3 linked regions of the Homo sapiens genome follow. The protein of the gene in region 1 interacts with the protein of each later gene in a biochemical or structural test. Each region holds a gene or a part of one and is shown on either strand. Other genes may lie near its edges.

Region 1 (5,728 bases):
GTTTTGTAGTTGTTATTGTTATTTGTGGTTTTGGTGTCACATCTAAGAATCTTGGCCTAATTCAAGGTCATGAAGATTTACTCTTATGTTTTCTTCTAGATGTTTAGTTCTATAGTTGGAGCTCATATATTTAGGTTTCTGATCCATTTTGAGTTAGTGTTTGTATAAAGTGTGAGGTAGGGGTCCAACTTCATTCTTTGAATGTGAATATTCAGTTGTTCCAGCACCATTAGTTGAGAAGACCATTCTTTCCCCATTGAATGGTCCTGGCACCTATTTTATTAAATTTAAATCTAAAGAACCACATGTAGGTTGGGCACGGTGGCTCATGCCTGTAATCCCAACACTTTGGGAGGCCAAGGCTGGTGGATCACTTGAGCTTAGGAGTTTGAGACCAGTTTGGGCAACATAGTGGAACTCTATCTCTATCAAAAATACAAAAAATCAGCTGGGCATGGTGGTACATGCCTGTAGTCCCAGCTACTAGGGAGGCTGAGGCAGGAAAATCGCCTGAGCCCAGCAGGTAGAGGTTGCAGTGAACTGAGATTGTGCCAATGGACTCCAGCCTGGGTGACAGAACAAGACACTACCTCAAAAATAAATAAATGGATAAATAAAAACCACATGTGACTGACTACTGTATTGGATGTCACAACCCTAGGTTCAACTGAAGGAGGTCCACACAGCACCCCCTGTGTATAAACAGTCATGCACATGCACGCACACACACACACACACACAAACACACACACACAGACACAAAGTGCTTCCCCATTGCACAGAGTCATTTTGCAGATTTGCACACACATGGATCCAGACACAAGTACTTGGATATTCACGGCAGGCCTGCCTCCTCTACCCCTAGGCCACATTCTAGACAATTTCTGCCTCCCTGACATGGGGGCCCCAGGACAGGTGCCTGGTCCTGACCTCTCTCCCCTTCATCCTCCAGGGAAATCAGCCTTACACTGGGCTGCGGCTGTGAACAACGTGGAAGCCACTTTGGCCCTGCTCAAAAATGGAGCCAATAAGGACATGCAGGATAGCAAGGTGAGCCCCAGCCCTTGGTCCACTGGGTGTCAGCAGTGGCACAGTGCCATTGCAATCCAGCCTGGGCAACAGAGTGAGACTCTCTCAAAAAACAAAACAAAATAAAACCCCAAACATTGGATTAAAATATAATTTACTTTGGTGACTAAAGTTTTTGGGGGCCCCTTAAATTTTGTGCCTAATGGCTGGGTGTGGTGGTTCATGCCTATAATCCCAGCACTTTGGGAGGTCGAGATGGGTGGATTACTTGAGTTCAGGAGTTTGAGACCAGCCTGGCCAACGTAGTAAAACCCTGTCTCTATTAAAAATACAAAAATTAGCTGGGCGTAGTGGTGCACACCTGTAGTCCCAGCTGCTCGGGAGGCTGAGGCAGGAGAATCGCTTGAACCCGGAAGGCTGAGGTTGCAGTGAACTGAAATGGCGCCACTGCACTCCAGCCTGGGCGACACAGTGAGACTCTGTCAAAAAAAAAAAAAAAAAAAGACAAGAAAAAAAAAGTTATGCCTAAGGTGAGTACCTCGCTTAACTCACCCTAGTCCTGGCCTTGACCTCTGGCACTTAGTAGGTGATGGATGAATGTGGTTTAGAGGAAAGAACTTGTCCAGGCTCCCCCAGCACAGCCGGGATTTAACCCAGGTCTGTCAAGCTCCAGTGTACAAACTCATAGCTCTCGGGCTCCCCCAAGAGGCTGGAAGACTTTGCTACTGTTAGCTGGGGTTTCGCTGACCTCTGTGGGTTCTGGCCCCCCAGGAGGAGACCCCCCTATTCCTGGCCGCCCGCGAGGGCAGCTATGAGGCTGCCAAGCTGCTGTTGGACCACTTTGCCAACCGTGAGATCACCGACCACCTGGACAGGCTGCCGCGGGACGTAGCCCAGGAGAGACTGCACCAGGACATCGTGCGCTTGCTGGATCAACCCAGTGGGCCCCGCAGCCCCCCCGGTCCCCACGGCCTGGGGCCTCTGCTCTGTCCTCCAGGGGCCTTCCTCCCTGGCCTCAAAGCGGCACAGTCGGGGTCCAAGAAGAGCAGGAGGCCCCCCGGGAAGGCGGGGCTGGGGCCGCAGGGGCCCCGGGGGCGGGGCAAGAAGCTGACGCTGGCCTGCCCGGGCCCCCTGGCTGACAGCTCGGTCACGCTGTCGCCCGTGGACTCGCTGGACTCCCCGCGGCCTTTCGGTGGGCCCCCTGCTTCCCCTGGTGGCTTCCCCCTTGAGGGGCCCTATGCAGCTGCCACTGCCACTGCAGTGTCTCTGGCACAGCTTGGTGGCCCAGGCCGGGCGGGTCTAGGGCGCCAGCCCCCTGGAGGATGTGTACTCAGCCTGGGCCTGCTGAACCCTGTGGCTGTGCCCCTCGATTGGGCCCGGCTGCCCCCACCTGCCCCTCCAGGCCCCTCGTTCCTGCTGCCACTGGCGCCGGGACCCCAGCTGCTCAACCCAGGGACCCCCGTCTCCCCGCAGGAGCGGCCCCCGCCTTACCTGGCAGTCCCAGGACATGGCGAGGAGTACCCGGCGGCTGGGGCACACAGCAGCCCCCCAAAGGCCCGCTTCCTGCGGGTTCCCAGTGAGCACCCTTACCTGACCCCATCCCCCGAATCCCCTGAGCACTGGGCCAGCCCCTCACCTCCCTCCCTCTCAGACTGGTCCGAATCCACGCCTAGCCCAGCCACTGCCACTGGGGCCATGGCCACCACCACTGGGGCACTGCCTGCCCAGCCACTTCCCTTGTCTGTTCCCAGCTCCCTTGCTCAGGCCCAGACCCAGCTGGGGCCCCAGCCGGAAGTTACCCCCAAGAGGCAAGTGTTGGCCTGAGACGCTCGTCAGTTCTTAGATCTTGGGGGCCTAAAGAGACCCCCGTCCTGCCTCCTTTCTTTCTCTGTCTCTTCCTTCCTTTTAGTCTTTTTCATCCTCTTCTCTTTCCACCAACCCTCCTGCATCCTTGCCTTGCAGCGTGACCGAGATAGGTCATCAGCCCAGGGCTTCAGTCTTCCTTTATTTATAATGGGTGGGGGCTACCACCCACCCTCTCAGTCTTGTGAAGAGTCTGGGACCTCCTTCTTCCCCACTTCTCTCTTCCCTCATTCCTTTCTCTCTCCTTCTGGCCTCTCATTTCCTTACACTCTGACATGAATGAATTATTATTATTTTTATTTTTCTTTTTTTTTTTACATTTTGTATAGAAACAAATTCATTTAAACAAACTTATTATTATTATTTTTTACAAAATATATATATGGAGATGCTCCCTCCCCCTGTGAACCCCCCAGTGCCCCCGTGGGGCTGAGTCTGTGGGCCCATTCGGCCAAGCTGGATTCTGTGTACCTAGTACACAGGCATGACTGGGATCCCGTGTACCGAGTACACGACCCAGGTATGTACCAAGTAGGCACCCTTGGGCGCACCCACTGGGGCCAGGGGTCGGGGGAGTGTTGGGAGCCTCCTCCCCACCCCACCTCCCTCACTTCACTGCATTCCAGATGGGACATGTTCCATAGCCTTGCTGGGGAAGGGCCCACTGCCAACTCCCTCTGCCCCAGCCCCACCCTTGGCCATCTCCCTTTGGGAACTAGGGGGCTGCTGGTGGGAAATGGGAGCCAGGGCAGATGTATGCATTCCTTTGTGTCCCTGTAAATGTGGGACTACAAGAAGAGGAGCTGCCTGAGTGGTACTTTCTCTTCCTGGTAATCCTCTGGCCCAGCCTCATGGCAGAATAGAGGTATTTTTAGGCTATTTTTGTAATATGGCTTCTGGTCAAAATCCCTGTGTAGCTGAATTCCCAAGCCCTGCATTGTACAGCCCCCCACTCCCCTCACCACCTAATAAAGGAATAGTTAACACTCAGTGTTGTTGGTCTGTGTCTAGGTAAGGTGGGGAGTGGTGGCAGTGGGACTTCTATCTCCCCCACCCAGGGCTAACTTGAGCTCCCATCTTGGGGTAAATACATTTGACTTGCCAGTCTACTTATGCTTCCTCTTTTGGCAGATGACTACCGATTGGATTAGTGGTTGTCACCTGACTTAAGCTGAGCCAATCAGATTCTTTTGCTCGAGAACTTTCTTTAATGGAGAGGCTAAGAAAGTTGTCAGTTGGTGGAGCTCTTAAGGTCACAATCAGATTTAGAAATATCAGTGGCCAATTCGAGGTGGTGGGCAAAGAGACAAGCAAACAGGGCAGAAGAATGAAGCTAATATTCAGGGAGAATCAGAAATGAGAGCTCAAATGGCTCCTTGAGGGCTGGGGGGGTTATCTCGGCTCCCAGTGCAGTTATCAATTCCAGTTAATTGAGTGTTCATTCCATTGAGATCAACAGGTATTTATTAATTGCTTTCTAAGTATCTGATCATGGTTCTGCATGAATTTCACTTTTACTTCATGCTCCTATGGGTTTTGGAGATAACCTTGGACCCATGTAATAAATACTTCTTTACTTGTGCCAGCTTCGGTGGGTTTCTGTTACTCGCAACCAGTCGTGCTCCAAGACAAGGTTCTGTTTACACTGGTGTCTTCAGGAAAGGAGGATAGGATTTAATGTTCGTTGATTCTGTCAGTTGGAGTGCTCCTGGTTGCAAATGACACAAAAGTCTACTGGCTTAAACAAGAAAGGGGTTTATTAGCTCATATAAATTAAAAGGACCTACTTCAGGGGAGAATTGATCTAGTGGCTCAAATGTGGTCAACAATGGCTCAGTTTCTCTTCATCTCTACAGCTTTCTCTGGGCATCAGTTTCATCTACATGCTCCACATGGCACCCAGTAGAACCTCTCTTCCCGACATCACACAGCTCCAGCCTTCTCTCTGTGTTATCAAAATAGGTGCCATATTGCTCCTTCCAGGGAAGAGAGAAACTCCTAGTATTGTGATTGATTTTTCTTTTACTTTCTTCCTTTTTTTTTTTTTTTTTTTAAGATAGAGTCTTGTTCTTGTCACCCAGGCTGGAGTGCAATGGCACAATCTCGGCTCACTGCATCCCCCGCCTCCGGGTTCAAGCAATTCTCCTGCCTCAGTCTCCCAAGTAGCTGGGATTACAGGTGTCCACCTCCATGCCTGGCTAATTTTTGTATTTTCAGTAGAGACAGGATTTCACCATGTTGGCCAGGCTGGTCTCGAACTCCGGACCTCAGGTGATCCATCCACCTTGGCCTCCCAAAGTGCTGGGATTACAGGCATGAGTCATCGCACTCGACCTTGTGGTTGATTTTTCTATTGACTCCAATTGGTTCACGTATCCACCCTCTAACCTAAGGTTTCTTAATTTCGGCATTATTGACATTTGGGGCCAAATCATTCTTTGCTGTGGGGAGCTGTCCTGTGCATTGTAGGATATTTAATAGCATCTCTGGTCCCTACCCATTAGCTACCAGCAGCACCCCTTTTCCAGTTGTGACAACCAATATAACATGTCTCCAGACATTGCCAATTGTCATCTGGGAGGCAGATTCACACCTGTTGTTGTCTTAAAGCATGTCTTAAAGTCTCTTCTTTGGAACTACTGATGTGCTAAATTTAGGGGCAATCAGGTTTGCAGAAGCATGAATTCTGTGGAAGCTTCTAATAAATGTTTACTCCTCTCCCACCCCCTTTAGGCTAAGTCTTTGAAGATGAAACAGTCTCTTTTAGGTTTGTCTCAACTTTATTTTATGTTTATTCCCTTACCCTCTAACCTGTATTGGGCACCTACCGTGTGCC
Region 2 (8,490 bases), on another chromosome or scaffold:
TGTGTCCAGCTAGCCTGCTGGCCTGACAGCTCCTCAAGGACTGGCTCAGTGTCTCATTTGCCCAAGTCCTTGCACTGACCAGCCCATCCCAAGAGGATCTCACAGCTGGTGCCCATGAGCATGCACTATGCCAACATTGGGCACGTTGTTTAGGACATTATGCGGATGATCTCAGGTAGCAGAACTATGGAAACCCCGGCTCAGTAGCGAGTCCATCATTCTCAAAACCCCACCAGCTATGTGCTATTCCAGATGAGAAAACAGCAGCTCAGAGAGGTGATACACAGCTGGTGTCTAAGCTGCAGTCTGACTCCAAAACTCATACATTTAACTCTGTCCCCTGTTCTAACTCCTGCCATGGTGGCCAAGTGCCCAGGTGTTGTCAGATGAGTGACTCAAGGAATGTAAGAAACGAATGCACATTACCGTGTAGCATATCACACAACCACGCAAGAATGGTTTCGTTGCAGTGTTCAAGCTCTCCAAGAGAAGAGTAGTCTTTGAAGGATTAGGAAAGCTTCATGGGGGAGGTGCTCTTTGAAGTGTGGGGAGGATTTACAGAAGTGAAAAGGAGAAGGGTACTCCAGGTGGCAGGCACAGAGGTGGGAAGGTATGTGGTGCATTCATTGCAGGGCACAGGGAGAAAGTGGGACATGGAATCCGGGAGGCCTTCAGGGAGGAGATACATTTGGGCCTGTCTACCTGCCTTTGGGGCAATTTGCAGGTTTTGAGAAGTAGAAATGAGGGTCTGGAGAGGGCATCTGTGAGCCTCTTCTGGGAACCCCTCCCTTGTAGGTGTACATTGTCGGCCACGTGCCCCCGGGGTTCTTTGAGAAGACGCAAAACAAGGCATGGTTCCGGGAGGGCTTCAATGAAAAATACCTGAAGGTGGTCCGGAAGCATCATCGCGTCATAGCAGGGCAGTTCTTCGGGCACCACCACACCGACAGCTTTCGGATGCTCTATGATGATGCAGGTATTCAACCTGGAGGGCAACTGCCAGCTCCCTCCCTCCTTCTCTCCCCAGACCCGCTCAGTCCTGCTGTCTCTCTCCTGACAGGTGTCCCCATAAGCGCCATGTTCATCACACCTGGAGTCACCCCATGGAAAACCACATTACCTGGAGTGGTCAATGGGGCCAACAATCCAGCCATCCGGGTGTTCGAATATGACCGAGCCACACTGAGCCTGAAGGTCAGGAGTCCTGCGGAGGCCAGAGGAGGAGGGTGGGAGGGGCTTAAATGCATCACCACCTTCCCTCACTCTCAGCTTATCCACCTTCCCCTGACCACTGAGCCTCAGGAAGGTTGAGCTCCTTCCACCCTTCTCCAGCTCAGGATCAGAACCCTGGAGGCACCTGCCACCGAGTCAGGGCAGTGCCTCACCAAGTCACCTTTTCCCCTGGATGACTGTCACAGCTTCATACCTGGTCTCCCTGCCTCTGGCCCTGCCCTGCTATGGCCCATCCGCTACACAAGAGAGAAGAAACTAATCTCCTATAGCACCACTTTCATCTTGTCTCCGTCCTGCTCAAAAACCTTCAGTGGCTCCCCAGTGCCTTCAAGATAAAGTTGTGTCTCCTTGACCTAGTACTCAAGGCTTCCCACAGTCTGACTTCAAGCCCATTGTCCACATTTTCCGTACACAGACGAGGCTCCAGCCCCTAATTCTTTGGGCAGTCCCTCACCTCGTAGGATGAGCTTGTGGTTGTTGAGATGAAAAATATTATTCCTTTATTTATCCAACAAAATGCATTAAGTGTGTGCCATTGGCCAGGCCCTGTTCTAATCTCAGAAGATATGTAAATTTAAAAACAAAGTCACCCCTCTCCTGGACCTGACATCTTACAGGAGAGGGACAATAAATATGTAGAATTAATTATAGTACTGAGAGAAGGGCTAAGGAGAAAATCAAAACAGTGAGGCGACAGGGTGACAGCTATGGGAGGTGTGTACTGTGTTAGATAGGTGGGAAGGGGAAGTGTCCACATAAGGTGCCATTTGAGTTCTGAGTGTATTGAGGGAGGGAGCCCAGTGGGTATCTTGGGGAGGTGGAGGGAACAGCAAGTCAAAGGCCCCGGGGTGGGAATGTGCGTGGTAGGTTAGGGGAAGAGCACGGAGGCCATGTGGCCACAGTAAGAGGCACAAGGGGAGAGTGGGAGGGGAGGTCCGATCTTGCAGGCCTCCATGAGGACTCTGGATTTGGAGGGTTTTGCGCAGAAGAATGAAATCCTGTGACTTATAATTTTATGGAATCATCATGTCTGCTGTGCAGGGAACAGGCTGTAGGGGCAGGTGGGGGAGCAGTGAGGCCGTTTGGAGGGAAGGACAAATCCCAGATGACAGGATAGTAGCTTGCCCAGGGTGGAGGCAGTGAGATGGTGAAAAGTGCCAGGTCCCAGATGAATTCTGGATGCAGGATTTGCTAGAGTGGATATGAGCTGTGAGAAAAAGGGACGAATCCAGGAGGCTTCCAAGGCTCTTGGCCTGTGCAACGGTAGGCTGTGGCTGCCGATTACTGAGATAAGTGGCAGGGTGATCAGGCTTCGGAGGGTCAGTCAGAGGTCTTGTTTTGGACCTGTTACCTTTGGGAGGGCTAAATGGCATCAAGTGAAAGTGGACAGGGAAGGGGCAAGTTGGAGCTTGAAGAGGTGAGGATAGAGATGTGATCTGGGAGTGGAGAGAGGACATTTAAAGCCAACGACTGCATGAGCTAACCCAGGTCCTTGATTCTAGTAAAGGTAGATTAAGAAGAGGTCTGAGGGGTTTAAAGAGTGGCCTGTTGTCCACATGGGCACTCCAAGGGTCTGAGCAAGGGGAATGGCAGGCTGCACCATCACCCCCTAACAGGCCCTCCATTCTCCTCAGGGAGGGAGTCAGCCCTGAGCTTGAATCCTGGCTCCACCACTCATAAGCTTTTTGATCTTTTGACCTCTGTGCCTCACTTGCTTCATCTGTAAAATGGGAGTAACAGAACCTCGCAGGGTTTGAGGAGGACTACATGAAATAATGGAATGTTCCTGGCACAGAGTGGCCATGCATACGGGCAGCTCCTCTTACCCCGTCTGCAGTGGCCTGAAGCAGGTTCATAAATGTACCTGGAACCCGCTGGACTGATGAACCCTGCAGAGTCTAGCCGTGAACATGCACCTGGGTCCTAGGAGTCTACAGTTCATAATCTCTCTCATGCTTAGTGTTGCTCTTTTTATGTTGCTTTTATCTATTCATTATGTAAATATTTACTGAGCGTCTTCTATGTGTACCCTAGCATGGTGGGACCTGGGGTAAACCTGGGGTCCAATCCTGCTACCACTGAATACCTGTATGAATACCTGTATGACCCTGGCCAAGTGAATTAACCTCTTTAGGCCTCAGTTTCCTCATTTGTGAAACCTAGGTAATAAGCGCAGTTACCTCATTCGATTCAGAGGATGTCTGCCAAGCACAATGGGTGCACAGCTAAGTGCTCAATAACTACTAGTGGTCATGGTCACTGCTCTAAAGAACTTGGGGGCAAATGCAAGGTGCAGGATGGGGATGGAAGCAGACAACTGCTCACAGCCGGTCTACCCCAAACCCTTTTTCCAGGACATGGTGACCTACTTCATGAACCTGAGCCAGGCGAATGCTCAGGGGACGCCGCGCTGGGAGCTCGAGTACCAGCTGACCGAGGCCTATGGGGTGCCGGACGCCAGCGCCCACTCCATGCACACAGTGCTGGACCGCATCGCTGGCGACCAGAGCACACTGCAGCGCTACTACGTCTATAACTCAGTCAGCTACTCTGCTGGGGTCTGCGACGAGGCCTGCAGCATGCAGCACGTGTGTGCCATGCGCCAGGTGGACATTGACGCTTACACCACCTGTCTGTATGCCTCTGGCACCACGCCCGTGCCCCAGCTCCCGCTGCTGCTGATGGCCCTGCTGGGCCTGTGCACGCTCGTGCTGTGACCTGCCAGGCTCACCTTCTTCCTGGTAACGGGTAACGGGGGCAGCGCCCAGGATCACCCAGAGCTGGGCCTTCCACCATTTCCTCCGCGCCTGAGGAGTGAACTGAAATAGGACAACCGAATCAGGAAGCGAAGCCCCAGGAGCTGCAGCCATCCGTGATCGCGCCACTGCACTCCAGCCTGGGTGACAAAGCCAGACTCTCTCCAAAAACAAACCAGAAACAGAAAAGAAATGACGACCCAAGACCCCCCTACAAGCATACTTCTTTTGCGTATTATGTTTAACTCACAAAACAAAGCTCATCATGCGTTTGATTCTGTGTTGTGTTCCTTTTCTTTTCTTTTGAGACGGAGTCTCGCTCTGTCGCCCAGGCCGGAGTGCAGTGGCGCTATCTCGGCTCTCTGCAACCTCTGCCTCCCGGGTTCAAGCGATTCTCCTGCCTCAGCCTCCTAGCTGGGACTACAGGCGCGCGCCAACACGCCCGACTAATTTGTATTTTTAGTAGAGACGGGGTTTCGCCATGTTTGCCAGGCTGGTCTCGAACTCCTGACCTCAGGTGATCCGCCCGCCTGGGCCTCCCAAAGTGTTGGGATTACAGGCGTGAGTCACCGCGCCCGGCCTCTATTCCCTTCCGTATGGAAATGAGGTTAACTCATTTGCAGGAACCTAACGCCCGCCCTCCCCCGACTCGGATCGCTGGCGTGAACCCAGCGGCCCCGTGCTCTCCGGGTATCCCTGGATCGAGGCGCACGCGTTGTTGCAAAGTCTCGCACTTAGGGATTAGAATGTGCCTTTGCGTTTCGTTTTGTTTTGCAACAATACAGGTGTGAGGGATCGCAGCCCTGGTCCAGGCTCTAGTCTCCCCGCCCTCTCGCTTTCTTGGGCCTCCGGGCGCCTCAAAGGTAAAACTAGGCCATTTGAAGCCTGCGAAGCGAAGGGCAGTCGGTCTTCAGGCCTAGCGGGCTTGGCTGGGCTGGGTCGGTGGACCCCTGGGCTGGCGGCGGGAGCAGAGCATCGAGCGGCTTTTAGCTGGGGTTCGGGCGGAGGACCTGGGACAACCGCGGGCCTCGCTCCTCCCCGGACGGGGCGGGACGGGGAAGTCCCGCCCACCAGGCCCAGGCCCCGGGCCGCCCCGAGGGCTGCGCCCACCTCCTTCCTGCCTCGGCAACCCCGGGCCCTGAGGGCAGGCCCCAACCGCGGAGGAGCAGGAGAGGGCGGAGGCCGGCGGGCCATGCCCTGGTCGTCCCGCGGCGCCCTCCTTCGGGACCTGGTCCTGGGCGTGCTGGGCACCGCCGCCTTCCTGCTCGACCTGGGCACCGACCTGTGGGCCGCCGTCCAGTATGCGCTCGGCGGCCGCTACCTGTGGGCGGCGCTGGTGCTGGCGCTGCTGGGCCTGGCCTCCGTGGCGCTGCAGCTCTTCAGCTGGCTCTGGCTGCGCGCTGACCCTGCCGGCCTGCACGGGTCGCAGCCCCCGCGCCGCTGCCTGGCGCTGCTGCATCTCCTGCAGCTGGGTTACCTGTACAGGTGAGTGCTTCGCCCCGGGAGGGGAGGAGTGTCGGAGCCCAGCACCTCCGTCAGCTGGGTCACCTGTACAGGTGACACGCCATATGCCGGGAAGGGGACTGGGAGAGGGAACCAAGTCCTGTGGGCGCCTGGCCTACAGGTGAGCGTGCAGCCCTTTACGGAAAGGGAATCCCGGTAGACTGCCTTCATTCTAGCCCTAGCTTTCCTGGCACAGGCGAAGAAACTGAGGCCCAGGGAAGAAAGGGAGGCGCATGGGCTTTGAAGTCGGACCTCTCAGGGATCCACTTCTGGCTTTGCCCCCTCTCGCCTCACTTCTGCATTTCTCTGAGCCTCAGTTTCCTCCTGCGTAGAAAGGAGGTAGTCACCCTGAGACAGGTGTGACGGGCAGGCCTGTTGTGAAGAGTGAGCGAAAGAATGAGAAAGTGCCTCGCACAGTGCCTGGCCTGTAATGGCAGGGGCTGCGGACTCAGTTCAGCATCCCATGTTTCAGCATGGGCAGGGCCTTGGGAAGTCACTGACCTCTCAGTGGGGCTGTTTGGTTGCTGTTCCCATTGGGATGGGGATAGCGCCTGCCCGTTTGGTGAAGATGCAGTGAAATGACATCTGTCCACTGCCCTGGCTCAGAGTGAGCACTCAGCAACCTCAGCTGGCTTCTTGACCTGGGCCTCCCTGGGAGTTTCAGCAGCCCTGACCCCACCACAGCGCTTGCCCCTCACAAAGGCCGCCTCTCACCCTGTCTGCCTGGTTGTATTCTTCCCCCTGAAACTTGGCTTCCCACCCCAGACCCAGCAAGAGGGCAGAGATGGCCTCTGACTCATCCATGCCCATGGAGCCAGCCAGGGCTGGGCATAGGCTGGGTCCTGGAAAATGTGTGTGGATTCTGCTCCTTTTTGGACCTGGTGGAGCCTCGTAGAGATGGGAAAACAAACCCAAGGCTCAGAGGCATGCGACAAAGTCAGGGCAGAGGGTGGTGTGGGTTGGGATGGGGTGGCCAGGGCCAGGATCTGCTCTTGAATCCGTTTTTACAAACTCTTGAGATCTGGCCTTGACAAAGCCACACGGAGTCTCCAGGAGTGGAAGAGAGGAGCTTTGAATGTGGCAGTTTTGCCTGAGGGATTATAGAGACATCAGAAAACCCCGGGTGGGCATGAAGGGGTGCAGTTGTTAAGTCCTGGGCAGGCCTCCATGAGCCGTGAATCTGTAACTACCTTATGCATCTTTGTGGCCAATATTTCTGCTGAGCTTGAGTCAGACAGACTGTACTAGCTTTGGCTTTGGAAATGGGTCTCTGTTCCTGCCTGTGAATTGGCCGAGGCAGGGGTCCCTGCTAGGTCACTGGGGACCATAGGCAAAGGCTCCTGCTGAGGGAGAACCCCAGCCTGTCCTGCCTGCCTGCTCCTCAGTGTGTTCTTGTGTCCTTCCAGGGGAAGTGACAGTACATGTCTGGTGAATGAGCTTGTGATGAGTGAACGGGGTTCTCTCCCAATAGGCAACTGAGAGCAAAGTTCTGGGTGGAGGGTCCTTGGTGCATCCTCCACTTACTCTTCATGCCAGTGGGTACCCCAGACCTGTCTGTCCAAACTCTGGACTCTCTTAACTCCGCCCCAATCTCCATCCTTAACCACTCAGGGCCAGCCTCTTAAATGGGATCCCTCCTTCCAATCTAACCCTCCTCCAGCCCCTCCCCTGTGTGGCCGGGGCAAGGCAGAGTCTGATTCCATCTGGCCTGTGCCCAGAAGTGCCCAAGAGGCAAATGTCCTCTTGCCCACAGGACCCCAGGAGATCTTGGGCACACTAAAGTTTGAGAACTACTGCCTCAGGCAACTTTATAGCATGCCTTTCCAATTCAGGTTTGGATCCAAATCCTCATTCCAGTACTTATTAGCTGCTTATAATTTTTTGTTTGTTTTTTAAAAAGAGGTAGGGTCTGGTCAGGCTTGGTGGCTCATGCCTGTAATCCTAGCAGTCTGGGAGGCTGACGTGGGTGGATCACTTGAGGTCAGGAGTTTGAGACCAGCCTGCTGAACATGGCAAAAGCTCATCTCTACAAAAATTAGCCAGGTGTGGTGGCGCATGCCTGTAATCCCAGCATCCCAGCTACTCTGGAGGCCGAGGCAGGAGAATCGCTTGAACCTGGGAGGTGGAGGTTGCAGTGAGCCGAGTTTGTGCCACTGCACTCTAGCCTGGGCGACAAGCGACAGATGTAGACTCTGTCTCCAAAAAAAAAGAAAAAAAAAAAGAGAGAGAGAGGCAGGGTCTCTGTTGCCTGGGCTGGAGTGCAGTGGCACAATCAATCATGGCTCACAGTGGCCTTGAACTCCTGGGCTCAAGCTGTCCTCCTGCGTCAGCCTCCTGAGTAGCTTGGACTACAGGCTTGTACCACCACGTCCAACTAATTAAAAAAAATTCTTTGTAGAGATGGGGCTTGCTGTGTTGCCCAGGGTGGTCTCAAACTCCTGGCCTCCAGTGATCCTCTTGCCTTGGCCTGTCAAAATGTTGGGATTACAGGCGCGAGCCACTGCACCCAGACCTTATTAGCTTCTTGATCCTGTTTCCCCATCTGTAAAATGGGCTTTTGTGAGAAGTAAACAGGACAAGGTTTGTGATGAGCTTGGGACAGTGCTTAGCCAGCGGGAGTAGAAGGTGTATTGATCCCCATTTTTGCTTTTTTGTTTTTTTTGAGACGGAGTCTTGTTCTGTCGCCAGGCTGGAGTGCAGTGGCACGATCTCGGCTCACTGTAACCTCCGCCTTGCAGATTCAAGAGATTCTCCTGCCTCAGCCTCCTGAGTAGCTGGGACTACAGGCGCGCACCACCACACCCAGCTAATTTTTTGTATTAGTAGAGACGAGGCTTCACCATGTTAGCCAGGATGGTCTCAATCTCCTGAACTCGTGATCAGCCCGCCTCAGACTCCCAAAGTGCTGGGATTACAGGCATGAGCCACCACACCCGGCCTCGATCCTCATTTTACAGATGAAACAAGTTCAGTGAGGTTAGGACATTGCCGAAGGCCC
Region 3 (7,820 bases), on another chromosome or scaffold:
TCCCACCATGGATCCTGGACGTCTTTTGATTTCAGTATTTTCAGACCTACCCTCGTTCATGATGATGAGCATATGTTCTCACTTGTTGCTAATAAGCAGTGCGGCAGGTTTTCTTTATACATTTATCTTCATGGATTTATACATCTAGCAAACATATGCTAGTATTTGTGTAGGATAAAGTTCTACAGTGGGGTTGCTGGGGTGAAAATGATGTGTTTAAACTTGTAACACATATGACCAAAATGGACCTTCCAAAGGCATTTTTAAAGTCCTGTCTCTTTCTCTGTAGGCATTGTCTCTTCAGGTCTTCTTTTTTTTTCTTTTTTTTTTTTTTTGAGATGGAGTCTTGCTCTGTCACTCAGGCTAGAGTGCAGTGGCATGATCTCAGCTCACTGCAACCTCCACCTCCCGGGTTCAAGCAATTCTTCTGTCTCAGCCTCTCAAGTAGCTGGGACTACAGGCGCCTGCCACCATGTCCGGCTAATTTTTGTATTTTTAGTAGAGACGGGGCTTTGCCATATTGGTCAGACTAGTCTTGAACTCCTGACCTCAGGTGATCCACCAACCTTGGCCTCCCAAAGTGCTGGGATTTCAGGTGTGAGCCATCACGCCCAGCCTAGGTCTTCTTTTATGTCCTTCAATAAAAGTTTTAGTTTTCTTTCCTTTTTTTTTTTTAATTTTACTTTTTTGAGACAGAGTCTCACTCTGTCACCCAGTCTGGAGTGCAGTGGCACAATCTCGGTTCACTGCAACTTCCGCCTCCTGGGTTCAAGTGATTCTCCTGCTTCAGCCTCCCGAGTAGCTGGGACTACAGGTGCGTGCCACCACGCCTGGCTAATTTTTGTATTTTTAGTAGAGATGGGGTTTCACTATGTTGGCCAGGCTGCTCTTGAGCTCCTGACCTTGTGATTCCCCCCGCCTTGGCCTCCCAAAGTGCTGGGATTACAGGCATGAACCACTGCACCCAGCGCTTTTTTCTTTTCTTTTCTCTTTTTGAGATGGAGTCTCCCTCTGGCACCCAGGCTGGAGTGCAGTGGTGCAATCTCAGGTCATTGCAACCTCCACCTCCTGGGTTCAAGAGATTCTCCTGCCTCAGCCTCCCAAGTAGCTGGGATTACAGTTGTGTGCCACCAGGCCTGGCTAATTTTTGTATTTTTACTTGAGATGGGGTGTCACTATGTTGGCCAGGCTGGTCTCGAACTCCTCACCTCAAGTGATCCGCCCACCTCAGCCTCCCAGAATGCTGGGATTACAGGTGTGAACCACTGCACCCAGACTTACTATAAGTCTTCATGTAGGTCTTGCTTATTTTTTACAGATTTACCCCCAGCTATTCCATAGTTTCAATTTCAAAAATTTTATCTTCTAACTAATTGGGCCTGATATGTAGAAAAGCCTTTTTTGTTTTTGTATTTATTCTTTTTCTTTCTTTTTTTTTTTTGAGTCAGAGTCTCGCTCTTGTTGACCAGGCTGGAGTGCAGTGGCACAATTTCTGCTCACTGCAACCTCCGCCTCCCAGGTTCAAGCGATCTCCTGCCTCAGCCTCCCGAGTAGCTGGGACTACAGGTGCCTGCCACCCTGCCTCGCTACTTTTTGTATTTTTAGTAGAGACGGGGTTTCACCATGTTGGCCAGGCTGGTCTCGAACTCCTGATCTCAGGTTATCCACCCACCTCGGCCTCCTGAAGTGCTGGGATTACAGGCGTGAGCCACCACGCCTGGCCTGTGTTTATTCTTATGAGTGTTGAGTTATTGGATTTCCTAGGTGACATGGTTTCTTATAACTACATACATATTCTTCCATGCACATTTTCTGACGGTTGACCTTGTTTGATCTTAGGTGGTTTGGCTTTGAATGACAGCAAGAACTCTGTCTTTAATGGCTTCATTGGTAGCGTATGATGATTCGGACTCGGAGGCTGAGACAGAGCATGCAGGAAGTTTTAATGCTACCGGCCAGCAGAAAGACACTTCTGGTGTGGCCAGACCACCTGGGCAGGATTTTGCATCTGGTACACTGGATGTGCCCAAAGCAGGGGCACAGCCCACAAAGCATGGCTCCTGTGAAGACCCAGGGGGCTATCGCCTTCCATTGGCTCAGCTTGGGAGAAGCGATTGGGGATCTTGCCCCAGCCAGAGGCTACAGTGGCCCGGGAAGGAGCCTCAAGTCACCTTCCCCATCAAAGAGCCTTCTTGTTCTTCTCTGTGGACGAGCCATGTTCCAGCCAGCCACATGCCCCTGGCAGCTGCCCGCTTTAAGCAAGTAAAACTCTCCAGGAACTTTCCCAAGTCATCTTTCCATGCTCAAAGTGAGTCTGAAACCGTAGGTAAAAATGGCAGCTCTTTTCAGAAGAAAAAATGTGAGGACTGTGTGGTACCCTATACTCCCAGAAGACTAAGACAGCGGCAGGCATTAAGCACGGAGACAGGCAAGGGTAAAGACGTGGAGCCACAGGGGCCCCCTGCAGGGCGTGCCCCAGCCCCTCTCTACGTGGGCCCGGGAGTGTCTGAGTTTATTCAGCCATATTTGAATAGCCATTATAAAGAAACCACAGTTCCCCGGAAAGTGCTTTTCCACCTGAGAGGCCACAGGGGCCCTGTCAACACCATTCAGTGGTGTCCAGTCCTTTCTAAGAGCCACATGCTTCTCTCCACTTCTATGGATAAAACTTTCAAGGTAAGACTTGAATGAAAACTTCTGCTTTCAGATGCTCTTAGGAATACACTGCTGGAATAATAGTGAAGTGGAGGGAGGTTACAGGCTGAACTTTTTTTTGTGTGCAGATTTCTGTAATTCCCTTTGTTGCATTCCAGAAAGGGTCATCTGTGGTCAGCTCCGGGTTGTGGGTTCCTTCTGCCCCAACCCTTCCCTGATGCTGCCTTGCTCAGGTTACCAGAGGATACTGTTTCTTATCCCTCTCGGAGGCCGTGAGGGAGGAGGTGAGAGTGATTAGTGGGAGAAGAAAAGCAGGCCCAGGACCAAGCCCTGGGGACTGGGGACATCCTCGGTGACCCTGTGGAGCATTGAGCCATGCCAGCTCTGTGCCTGGTGCTGTGCTGGTTTCAAGGGCTGTTGGGAGAGGTAGGTAGACCCAGCCCCTGGTGTCAGGGCTTGCACAGTGAGGCGGGAGCCGTGGACAAGTACACAGACTCAACCCTGAGCTGTGAGGACGGCCCCCAGTAGGACACACAGGTGCTCTGGGAGCCCAACGGGAGGGTTACCAGCCCAGCCCGGCAGGGCTCAGTGAAGGCCTCCTGAGGAAGGGGAAGGTTCGCTTGGGGATGGGGGCAGAAGGGCGTGCTTGGCTGCAGGAGCCCTGTGTATGTGTTGGCTCCAAGCATGAGGGCCTGGGAGCTGGCTTCAAGCATGTGTGGGTGAGGGACTTGAGGCTGGGGAAGCAAGGTCAGGGAAGGTTGCACGTGCCCTTCTGGGGACTTCTGGTTTTACATGGAAACTCTTTTTTGCATTGTCTTATTTATTTTACAGGCTACTGAAGTGATAGTAATGTAGTCCCCCAGTATGGAGGTACAGTGTGATAGGTCGTTGTGCCCACCTGGGACCTGTCTCCAGCCCTTCGAGCTGTGCACTGCATCCCTCCTCTCTCTCCTCGCAGCTAGCAAAGCACCTGATATGTAGCGGGTGCCAACTAAATGCTAGCTGAACAGAAAGCTCTTGGAAAGGAAATAACTTCAAGGGACCTGGCTTCACATCCAGCTTTGCTGCAGAGTAGCTAGCTGGTCGACCACTGGCCGGCTGCCTTCCTGTGGAGTCTAGTGTCTCATTTGTAAAAGGGCAAAATCATACCTGGGTCATGTGCTCATGTGAGAAAAATGCTGAAAAAGTGCCTTGCACAGAGCCAGGTACCTCATAGGCGCTCAGTAAATGGTGGTTCCCTTGCCCTTGTTTCCTCAGAGTTCTGGAACCAACTTTCCTACATCTTTTCTCTTGCAAATTACATTTTGAGCTTTTCTCCCTCGGAAACATTTTCTTAAGTGAAGAAAGGAAGCTCCAAGTATAGAGATGTCTTTGAAATGAGCTGAATTGATGGGTGGCATTTTTAAGTGGCGAACTGGAGTCCTGAAGTGGCTTGTCTGTGCTCTTTTCTAGCAAGACTCAGAGTCCTGTGGGAGAGAACGTCATATTCTCTCTTCAGCCTGGAGTTCCAGGATTTTCCACTTAGGTCTTTGGTGCTTTTCCTGCCATTCCGGGGGCTGTGAAGTGTGCGCGGAGGCTTCTGGCATCCCTGGCGTGGATCACAGCATGCTGGGATTGATCCTGTGGCCCCGGGGCTTCTCTGCTCTCCTTCCCAAGTCTGCGCTGCAAGGGCTGGAGGATGGGAAGCCCATCTGGAGGGTTGCTGGTGGGCCTGGGCAGTGTCTGACTGGCCCTGGAGTTCAAGTGGTGGCCCTTGTCCTCCCTGTGCTCACCTTCCTGTTGAGGCCTTCTTTTACCTGCCCGCTCACCTCTGGAGTTCTCTCTCCTGATGGTGAGGGGCAGACCTGGGGCCCTGTGGGACTGGCCTTCGCCTGGTGGCGTGAAGTGCTCCCTGGGCCCTGCTGGCAGAGTGGCAGCTTGGGTCACTTTTGCCTGGGAAATTTAGATTTCCTAAACAGAAGCATCCCCATGGTAGTTTTTGAGCAGAGAGCACCTGAGTAGAGGCATTGATTTCTGGCCTTGTGGAGTAGACAAATGTGCCAGGCACGGTGCCACTGGGGACGTGGGGGGAGAGACGTTTCTGCCCCCATGGAGGGGAAACTGTGAGCAGCCAACTAACTGTGACACCTCATGACCAGAAGAGGGCGCAGTGGGCCCAGCTTGGAATGGCAGTGAGGGTGGCTCAGACTGAGGGACTGTGGTAGGAATGCCCTGCTCCTGGGCGATTCAGAGACCTGGGTCCGGGTCTGTGGGGCTGCCCTGGGTGGGGCCAGGCGCCGCAGCTGTGCCCGCCTGTCCCGAGGAGACTGTGTGTGCTGCAGGTGATGACACTGGCATGGGCCCCTTGGGCTGCCAGGCAGCTTCTGGGGAGCCCCACCCACTGCACTGTGCACCCTGGGTTCCTTCCCAGGGCAGAGCACATTTGCTGTCATGAGGTTGGGCCAGGGTCAGCATGGCTGCTAGGGTTGGCATCTCCTGACCCTCTTTTTTTACTGTGGTGTCGTGAACATTAGGGCTTTTATAAGCCATAGATACAAATGGTGGGCCAGGGCCCTCTCTGTTTTAAGATATTTGTCAGTTTTCAGTGATGGGGTTATTTGGCAAATTGGTTTTGGGCAAATTGACTTTGAACAACTTTTCAGTGTGAAGAGTGTATGGCAGGGGCTGGAGGAGCCAGGATGGGAAGACAGATTGGGAACCGGCGGGGAGCCAGGCAGGAGCTGTGGCCAGAAGTCCCGGCTGAGGCCTCAGGCTTGCTGGGCCACCAGGTTTGTGCGTGGCCTGGCTGGGAGGCACATGGTGTTCTTTTCCCTCCTTGGTGTCAGAGGTGGGGCAGCATGGCAGATCTTGGGGACCTGGTGATCTGGGGAAGGCAGTGTGTGGGTGTGGGTGGTGGGTCTGGAGTGGGGATAGGGCCTCGGGCACAGGCAGGAGTCCTGGCTGGCTGCAGCCCAGTCCCTGGAGGAGAGGAAATGGTGGGTGCAGCATGGAATGAGCTCAAAGAGGCGGGTGCAGCAGTACACCCTTCCCAGGGTGCTTTCCCCCTGCCTTTTGGTTAAAATCTGCCAGTGTCTTCTGGGCCCCTGCTGGATCAGGAAGGAGGGAAGAGCTTGGGGGCTGGGTGACAAGACCTGCTTGGGTCCTTCCTCTACGGCCAGCCCCTTGGTTGCGTGGTCTCTGGCAAGTTACCTCACTTCTGAGCCTTCATTTGAGTATCTATAAAGTGGAGAGAATTAAACATGCCTCGCTGGGTTTTTGTGAAAAGTAAACGATATTAGTTGTGAATCACCAAGTGCAATGCCTGGCACATAGCAGGCACTTAGTGTGTGCTCGAGTTCCTGCTTTTCCCCAAGAATTTCCTCCTTTCCTTGACTTGTGCTCATGTCTTATTTTACGTAAGTAGCCATGGAAGCATATCAGCTTCACCTACTAGACTTTAAGCTTCCTGAGCCAGAACCCATTTTTATATTCCCCAGCATCTGGCACAAAATTGTGTACATGTTAAGTGATCGATAAAAATTAAAACAAATTTTTTGGATTTTATCGCAAGCCTTTGGGAAGGGATTGTCTTTTGAGTGGATAAATCATATTCGCCACTAGGGTGCACAGTAAGACTTAATATAAGCAGCTCATCCAAGCTTCTAGAATGTGGAAGAATCCTTGATTCAAGGTAACATTTACTGAAAAATGATTTCTTTCTGATCAGGAGAAAAACAACACAGTCCAACTTATTAATCTAAAGAACATGGAGTGCCAGTTCCTTCATATCCTTAAAACGTAGCTTCGGAATTCATACATTTCAACTGGACACATTACAGTGGAAAGATACTTATTTTAATATGTTCTAAATGTTCTGTGAGCTGTAAAATATGCTTTTATTAGTTTTGAAAAATTTACAGCTAGAGAAATTAAGTAAAATAAAACAATGACTCATAATTCTGCACCGCTGCTCTTTCCTGACGATCCCTTCCTCCCCTTGTCTGTGAACGTGCTTGTTTTTTTCATAGCTGTGATCCCAGCACGGATACCCTTTTATATACTCTTTTCATCTCCCAGTGAACTCTTTTGGCTTAACGTGTTTGAACACCCACTGCACGTAAAGGTAGAAATTCAGACTTTGATGCCTTTTTTTGAAGGAAAACATGTACGTGGCCTGCGTTAACCAAAAACACAACCAGCCGTTATTGAATGCTCCCATGTACAGAACCCTCTGCCAGGCACTGAGAGGGAGTCCCAAAGGAATAAGACCTTTGGGTGGGTGACAGAAGACCCACCAGGGACCTTCTGTACCTGTATGAAAACCTGCAGTTCTGAAACACAGAAGGTTTTTAAAGAAAATATATGAATTAGATGTTGTTTATTTGCTTTACAGAATAATTTGCTCTAGAAATTCTTTCAGTAACAAGCTTCCTTAAAATACTTTGAAAAAAAACCTTTTAATTTTTGACCATGAATGTAATAGATGCTTATTGTGAAAAACTTTAATGATGCAGGAAATATGAAGTATGAAGGAGAAACAGAAATCATTGATAACTCCCAACCCCAAGTCAGTGCCTCATTAACATGAGGGGCCTCCCTGGTCGGGGGCCCTACATTCCTATCTGTTTACATAATTGGGCTTATTGCATAGTATGTGCAGTTTTGAATTCTTCCTCTGCTGCCCAATCTTCTGTAACGTGTAAGGGGAATTTTTCTACCTTATTAAAAACTTTTCCCCAAATATATTTTTATAACTGTCTCAAGTTTCATACTTTGCTCCATCATTTCCATGTTGTTTCCTATAATTTCCTGCTTTTGTTTAAAAAATAATCAGTATTACAGTGAATATGGCTATACATAAATATTGTCTTTTTTTGCTGCCTTAATGCAGTTAAGATGGGCTTTGAGGCCAGGCGCGGTGGCTCATGCCTGTAATCCCAGCACTTTGGGAGGCCGAGGCAGGCGGATCACGAGGTCAGGAGATTGAGACCATCTTGGCTAACATGGTGAAACCCCGTCTCTACTAAAAATACAAAAAATTAGCCGGGCGCGGTGGTGGGCGGCTGTAGTCCCAGCTGCTCGGGAGGCTGAGGCAGGAGAATGGCATGAACCCAGGAGGCGGAGCTTGCAGTGAGCCCAGATCGCACCACTGCACTCCAGCCTGGGTGAAAGAGCGAGACTCCATC

Evidence for each region. The genes of interacting proteins can lie anywhere in the genome.
Region 2: the proteins of NOTCH3 (region 1) and XKR8 form a complex in vitro, tested with the Homo sapiens proteins (one study listed by BioGRID).
Region 3: the proteins of NOTCH3 (region 1) and WDR25 form a complex in vitro, tested with the Homo sapiens proteins (one study listed by BioGRID).

What each region holds. Positions count from the first base shown.
Region 1 is NC_000019.10:15,157,787-15,163,514, reverse strand, and holds the end of NOTCH3 (neurogenic locus notch homolog protein 3 precursor), read left to right. Parts: intron 1-952; coding exon 953-1,050; intron 1,051-1,800; coding exon 1,801-2,853; 3' UTR 2,854-4,477; downstream 4,478-5,728. UniProt on the Homo sapiens protein: Functions as a receptor for membrane-bound ligands Jagged1, Jagged2 and Delta1 to regulate cell-fate determination.
Region 2 is NC_000001.11:27,954,889-27,963,378, forward strand, and holds the start of XKR8 (XK-related protein 8), read left to right. Parts: upstream 1-5,084; 5' UTR 5,085-5,181; coding exon 5,182-5,474; intron 5,475-8,490. Other genes in the region: SMPDL3B (acid sphingomyelinase-like phosphodiesterase 3b), read left to right, coding at 796-976, 1,061-1,194, 3,588-3,950.
Region 3 is NC_000014.9:100,379,071-100,386,890, forward strand, and holds part of WDR25 (WD repeat-containing protein 25), read left to right. Parts: intron 1-1,839; 5' UTR 1,840-1,854; coding exon 1,855-2,676; intron 2,677-7,820.